Homo sapiens: one gene and its partner. The protein of the gene in region 2 purifies or fractionates together with the protein of the main gene of each other region. This does not show direct contact. Each region holds a gene or a part of one and is shown on either strand. Other genes may lie near its edges.

Region 1 (3,660 bases), on a different chromosome or scaffold from region 2:
AATCCAAATTTACATTAGAAATGGGAAAGGAAGGAGTGAACTAGATTGTATAGCTTTTATTAACAAAGGATATGAGTTATCTGTGAAGAAAACAGTGATGGAAGTTGCATTTTCAGTATGAACTGAAGGTTGTGATTAAGCAACTCTTTATTATCTATCTTCCTGGAAATAAAATCCAAGAGCAGTACTATCAGGATCCTCTTTTTAAGAGGATTTTCCAGAAGATTTTCTCTGGAAAGAATGCTACACGTAGAAAAAAAAACACTAAGCATAAATCCAAAATATAAATCACCAAAAAAGAGAAGAAAAATTAAACTTTGTGACATTTGCTCTGGTTTTAACAGGCAAATTATTCTGCCTAATCTTTAAAAATAGTCTTTCAAATTATTTTAATGGTCTTTTTTTTTTGAAAAAAGTTATCTTAAAGGCAACAACAAACTCCTTTCTTGAGGAAAGGAAATGAAATTATAAGAATTTAATAAGTTTGCCAGAAAAGTATAAGTTATCTTAATGTGGGACAAAATACCTGAGTTTAGAGTATTTAATATTTTTATATTCCGTTTCCATCCTTACCTCTATTTCTCTTTCAGGATTCAGATCATGATCCCACAGAATTATTTTTCTGTCTTTCCCTCCTCCAGTTAATAACATCCCATTTCTCATCTGACAAAGTGTGAACACACTGCCATCATGAGCTTTGATTTGTTTGCTGATTTGATATACACCTAATATGAGGGAAAAATAAAAACACTAGTGATAATACTTTTCTTCAGATTTTAGTGTCTATTTGGAAGAAAACTTCAGTAGAACTAGAGTTAATAATCAGAAAGTTCATATGACTCAATCAAAAACCTATTTTCAGCAAGTCTTTTGTGCAAAGCAGGTAGTAAAGTTTAGGGTATAATACAATCTTTTGCATTTCTGTCAATATTTATTTACTCTGAAAATATTTCAAAATATTTTCCTACAAAAAACCAAAGCAAAAGTAGTGATAATTCCACAGACGAAAGGGGATATAGTATAGGTTTCAGAACTTTACTATCTCTCATAATCATCTTGTATGGTAGCTAGGGTAGGTGTCACTCTTCTGATATGAGAGCTCAAGACACAAGAGGTACAGGAGCAGCTTAGGGGATACCACATAGTTAGCTAATAACAAAGCTGTGACTAGGCTCAAGTCTCCCACCTTGATGTTCCTTTAACTTTGCAAAAACATCTTTGGTTGACCTTCTGAGGTAACAGTCACAACGTTTAACGTTTTACAACCATTGTTAACCCAGAGGCCTTCTGCTGTGCCAAGGATTACTCCCCTTTATTTGCTGAGATATGGGGGCACTACAGAAGTTATTGGGACAAAGGTAGGCAATGGATACCTGCAGTGATGGCTTTTGACCTACTAGCAGAGAATAATTTCAGTATTTTAAAAATTGATTCAGCTGTACCAATGTGATGGCTAAATAACAGCCCAGTTTTCTTGTATACCCATAGCACACTTTGTTAAGTACCCAGGGAGAGACCAAGGGGGTACATAAAAGGTCTTTTAGGCAAACACATGTGGTTTTTTAAATTATATTTTGCCCCCTTTTAAGGGTGAGAATAAGATGATAGTACTCATACCTTTTTCTTTGGTATTCATAAATGCCTTACTCAGAGAAGCTCTTTAGCTAGATAGGCTAGCAGAGCAAGAGTAAAGCTTTTTGGAAGATGATGTCCTACAGAATTAGTTACCAGGTTCAAAATGGGAAGGTAGAACCTTATTGAAATATGGCCAAAGTAAGTCAATAAACAGCCCTTAGTCCTCTTGAAAAAATTCAGGTTTAACAACTATTCATTTTCTAAAACTGTTCCTCAACTGATGAATAGATTTTAAAAACACAGTATGTCTATACAATGTGATATTACTCAGCCATAAAAAGGAATGAGGTATTGACACATGCTACCACCACATGGATGAATCTTAAAAACATAATGCTAAGTGAAGGCTGGGCACTGTGGCTCACACCTGTAATCCCAGCACTTTGGGAGGCCGAGGTGGGTGGATCACCTGAGGTCAGATGTTTGAAACCAACCTGGCCAACATGGCAAAACCCTCTCTACTAAAAACACAAAATTAGCCGGGCATGATGGCACATGCCTGTAATCCCAGCTACTTGGGAGGCTGAGGCAGGAGAATCGCTTGAACCTGGGAGGCGGAGGTTCAGTGAGCCGAAATCGCACCACTGCACTCCAGCCTGGGCAACAAGAGTGAAACTCCATCTCAAAAAACAAACAAACAAAACAAAACAAAAAAAACTAAGTGAAAGAAGCAAGTCATAAAAGACCACACATTGTATGACTCCATTTATATGAAATGTCATCAACAAGTAAATCTATAGAGACCTAAAGGAAATTGGTGGTTACCTAGGGGCTGAGGGGAGGGAGAAATAGAAAGTGACTACTAATGGGTACAGGCTTTCTTTTTGGGGTGATGAAAATGTCCTTAGGTCAGATAGTGGTGATGGCTGCACAACCTTGTAAATATACTAAAAACCACTGAACTTAAAGGCATACTTCAACAGGGTAGATTTCATGGTATGTGAATTATATATCGAAGTTGTTACTGAGATTGTTCTTTTTTACTCATCTATTTGAGCTGCTATTATACTTAACAAATTGACTAAAATTTCTAAGGCTTTGGTATCCTAAAAAAAATTATGTCTCAGTTTGAGTATGCTAGTGGTACAAATACTTAACAGATGGGTATATATGGCAGGGAGACAGGAAAGGGCTTGCTTGATTTGGAGGAGAACTTGCCCAATTCAGCAGAGCTGGAAGTAGAACTCCAACAAACTTGCTGTTCAGGTCAACTGTCTCCACTTACATCAATATTTATCATCTAAAAATACCTTAAAAATTGAACAACACAACTGTGTTCACTGGCATAGGTAGATAAGTATCTATCTCTGTTCTGATGTTACCACGAGAGGGAGGACACCTGAGAGATGAGAATTTTCTGAGAGTACTACTGGCTTTATTTGGATAATAAAAATAGAGAAAAGCAAATTCTAGGCTTATTTCCCTGTGCATGGTCAAACTAACAAGAGTAGCCTGAAGGTATCATGTAAGAAAACACAAAAAGCAAAGGTGTGGGAGTTTCATAGTTCTCTATCAGAATGTAAGAAAATAAAGCTTTTCTATGCTTAAGTCTGCTTTCCGTATTTCTAAACATGACAAAAACCTTGTTAAACACTTAAAATCCTCCCAGAATGATGGAAAACTGGAAAAAAAAATGAAGAAAAAAATGCTTCATCAGAAATAAAAATACTCTATATAGTGATCAAGTCAGTGAGTCCTTCTCACTCCAGGAAAGTTATTTCCTGAGGTGGACCTAGTATCGACTTAGCTTAAAAAATTTAGTGTTTCTAATTTAAACAAATTATCAAAGTTTCCTTTATATAGTATTTACCTGTAAAACAAATTTATAGCCAAAGATGTCTTTCTTATGGGCCTGTATTTCTGATATTTCAGTTGCCAAATAATGTTTGAAATCCCTGCCAAGGAAAATAATTATCCTTGAATTAAAAAAACCTACTCTGCCTTCAGGCTTACTCATATGGTCAAGTCCATCCAAACTTAATCACAAACCTCACCCTTTCTTCTCATCTCTAACAGACACAAAGC
Region 2 (2,675 bases):
AGAAGATTTTTTTTTAATGACTGAGAAAACTTGTTTACAGCTCCAGCATATAAGGAAAGTGTTCAAGGCCAGATATGCCTCAGATATTTAACCAGTAAGCCTTAGTTGTACATAAATACTTTTGTGTCAACAAAAACTTTCAGCTCTCACAGAAGACAGTTACTCAACATTTTTTGATGTGCCACAGTTTCGAGTTTTTCGATATTTAAATTTTTTGGCTTTTCATCTAAGTTTGGGTTTGTATTTTTTCCTTCTAAACTCTTCATGTGGCAGAGTCTTCTATGTTTTCACAGCTTTTTCATTACAGAAAAGAACACTTGCTCTTCTGTGATTATTGTCATGTATTAGGCTAATGCTGTGTTGTCTCCCACCTGGAACTGAATTGCTTGGTGGAACATATGCTTTCACTGTTTGTGCAATATGCATTTATTTCTTATATGAATGCTTTAAAGTCATTTGAGGTTAGATCTTTTAATTCCTATTTTCTGCTTCATTGGTCACTTTTTTTTTATTGTAGTATAAGATGTTAGATTCTGTAATCTTCACATTCATTTTAGCAGGTACTGAGTGATGCTGTATATACAAATAAGTGTATTGTTTTGATTTTTAGACCACCACATGGCATGCTTGACTATTTCTTATTTCAAATGTCTGCTAATGCAGAGTAGGCTACTCCATGATAGTGTTAAAAAACAAAATTTGCTAACAATGTGATATAAAGACTTTAAAAGTTACACATTATGTGGAGCCCTATCTTTACAAAAGTTTCCTACTGTAAAGTGCTTTTATTTTCAGTTTTCACTTGATAGTACTCAACCATAATTAAAGTTGCATAAGATAATTGCTTTACATTTCACATACCTATATTTATCTGAGTGCTGTCTAAAACTGTTGTGCTAGCCAAAGTAATGCTATGAAATCATTTGCAGAATTAACCCGTGAGTTAATGTTAAATGCACTGTTATTGCCATGTGAAGAGGCATCGACTTTGATACCACCATCATGTTCAGACCATTTTATACATTTCAGTGGCCTTTTTTTTTTTTTAAGGAAAAAAAAGCGCAAAACCAAGTACATAGTGACGATGGCTTTTATTTGGACAAATAGCTTTTATATTTTCATTAAACCATGCAAAAAATACTACATCTTTCTGGCACATAACTGTCTCCTTAACCACTGAACAGTTCAGCCATTTGAATAAATTGTACATTGTAAAGCTTATAGTAGCTGATTGTATTATTGATTGTATTGTATACTATATTAAATGTGAATTTGTACCCCTTCATTTTAAAAGGTCATTGTGTTCTACTGCCTATTTTAGATTACTTTGGGGTTGGGGAAGGGTGTTTTGGTAAGCAGGATTTTAAGTCCTCTCTCTCTCGATTGGTTTTATGAAGATATAAGGTTATGCTCTTACTACCAAGCTCAGGATTCTTGATTTTAAAGGTACAAGGATAGTTGTGGGAGTTTTATTTTTGGTTATATTTGAACTGTATGAATGGTAGGTCTGAATATTGAGAATTTCCATGGTCTTATGTGGAGGTAAAATATACAGATAACTGATCAGTTTGAGTGACTGCAACATGTTCTGGTTGCACAACAGTTAGGCATGCTATGGTTTATATTTGTGAAGTTTGGATGCCTGTGAAGAATGATTAAATACATGTTTCTAATATTTTAGTGTTTTGTATTTAGGTTATTTATTCTTTGTATCTAAAACTGAACAGCTACTGTGCTATATTGATTTTATTGGTAGTATTGAGCAGACCTTGTTTCTGCATGAAACTAGTTGCAAAACCCACTATTTTGGAAATAAAAATGTATTTTGACATATACAAATAAAATGAATAAAACTATTTTAAATGTGTGAACTTTTAATGAAGACATTTTAAATTTTGTTCTGAGATATTTAAATTCTGCATGGGTATTTTTTCACTAATTGCTTTACTTGGATACCAATTTGAATAATTTCTGAAATTGTAATATTGTGATAATTTGCACAGCATTGTACATGCACATCTGTAAATGCAATCTTAATTGCCATATTTATGCAATCTGTGTACCAATTTGGACAAATGTTTATATATTTTACATAAAGCTGTCTGTATGCAGAATCTGAGAACTAGTTTTTTTATGATAATAAGTGGGTAAAAATTAATAACAGTGAGTTTCAGGGTAGTTGCTTTGTAGCACAAGATTTCGCTTCCATAAACATTGTTTTTTTTTTTTTTCTTAAAGTAAACCTGTGCTTTTTCTTATCTGCAAACATAGGCTTAGCGATACATATAAAGGTAATATTCCATTGAAACATACAGTTTACTTTAATATTAGATCATTTTCCAATTTAGATTTGTCCAAGGTTCGACCTGCTAACACATCTATAAATAAGAGGCACTTTTAGCCAGGCATGGTTGGGAGGCCCAGGCGGGAGGATCACCTGAGGTCAGGGGTTTGAGACCAGCCTGGCCAACAGGGCGAAACCCCGTTTCTACTAAAAATAAAAAATGAGCCAGGTATGATGGTGCAATCGCCTGTAGTCCCAGCTACTCAGGAGGCTGAGACAGGAGAATCACTTGAACCAGGGAGGCAGAGGTTGTAGTGAGCCAAGATTGTGCCACTGCACTTCAGCCTGGGCAACAGAGTGAGACTCCGTCTCAAAAAAAAAAAAAAAAAAA

What was found. Proteins that work in one complex are often made in the same cells at the same time.
Region 1: the proteins of PPP1R12A (region 2) and EML4 fractionate together in Homo sapiens (co-fractionation; one large-scale study listed by BioGRID). This does not show direct contact.

What each region holds. Positions count from the first base shown.
Region 1 is NC_000002.12:42,298,306-42,301,965, reverse strand, and holds part of EML4 (echinoderm microtubule-associated protein-like 4), read right to left. Parts: intron 726-3,660; coding exon 574-725; intron 1-573. UniProt on the Homo sapiens protein: Essential for the formation and stability of microtubules (MTs). Required for the organization of the mitotic spindle and for the proper attachment of kinetochores to MTs. Promotes the recruitment of NUDC to the mitotic spindle for mitotic progression.
Region 2 is NC_000012.12:79,773,007-79,775,681, reverse strand, and holds the end of PPP1R12A (protein phosphatase 1 regulatory subunit 12A), read left to right. Parts: 3' UTR 1-2,114; downstream 2,115-2,675. UniProt on the Homo sapiens protein: Key regulator of protein phosphatase 1C (PPP1C). Mediates binding to myosin. As part of the PPP1C complex, involved in dephosphorylation of PLK1. Capable of inhibiting HIF1AN-dependent suppression of HIF1A activity.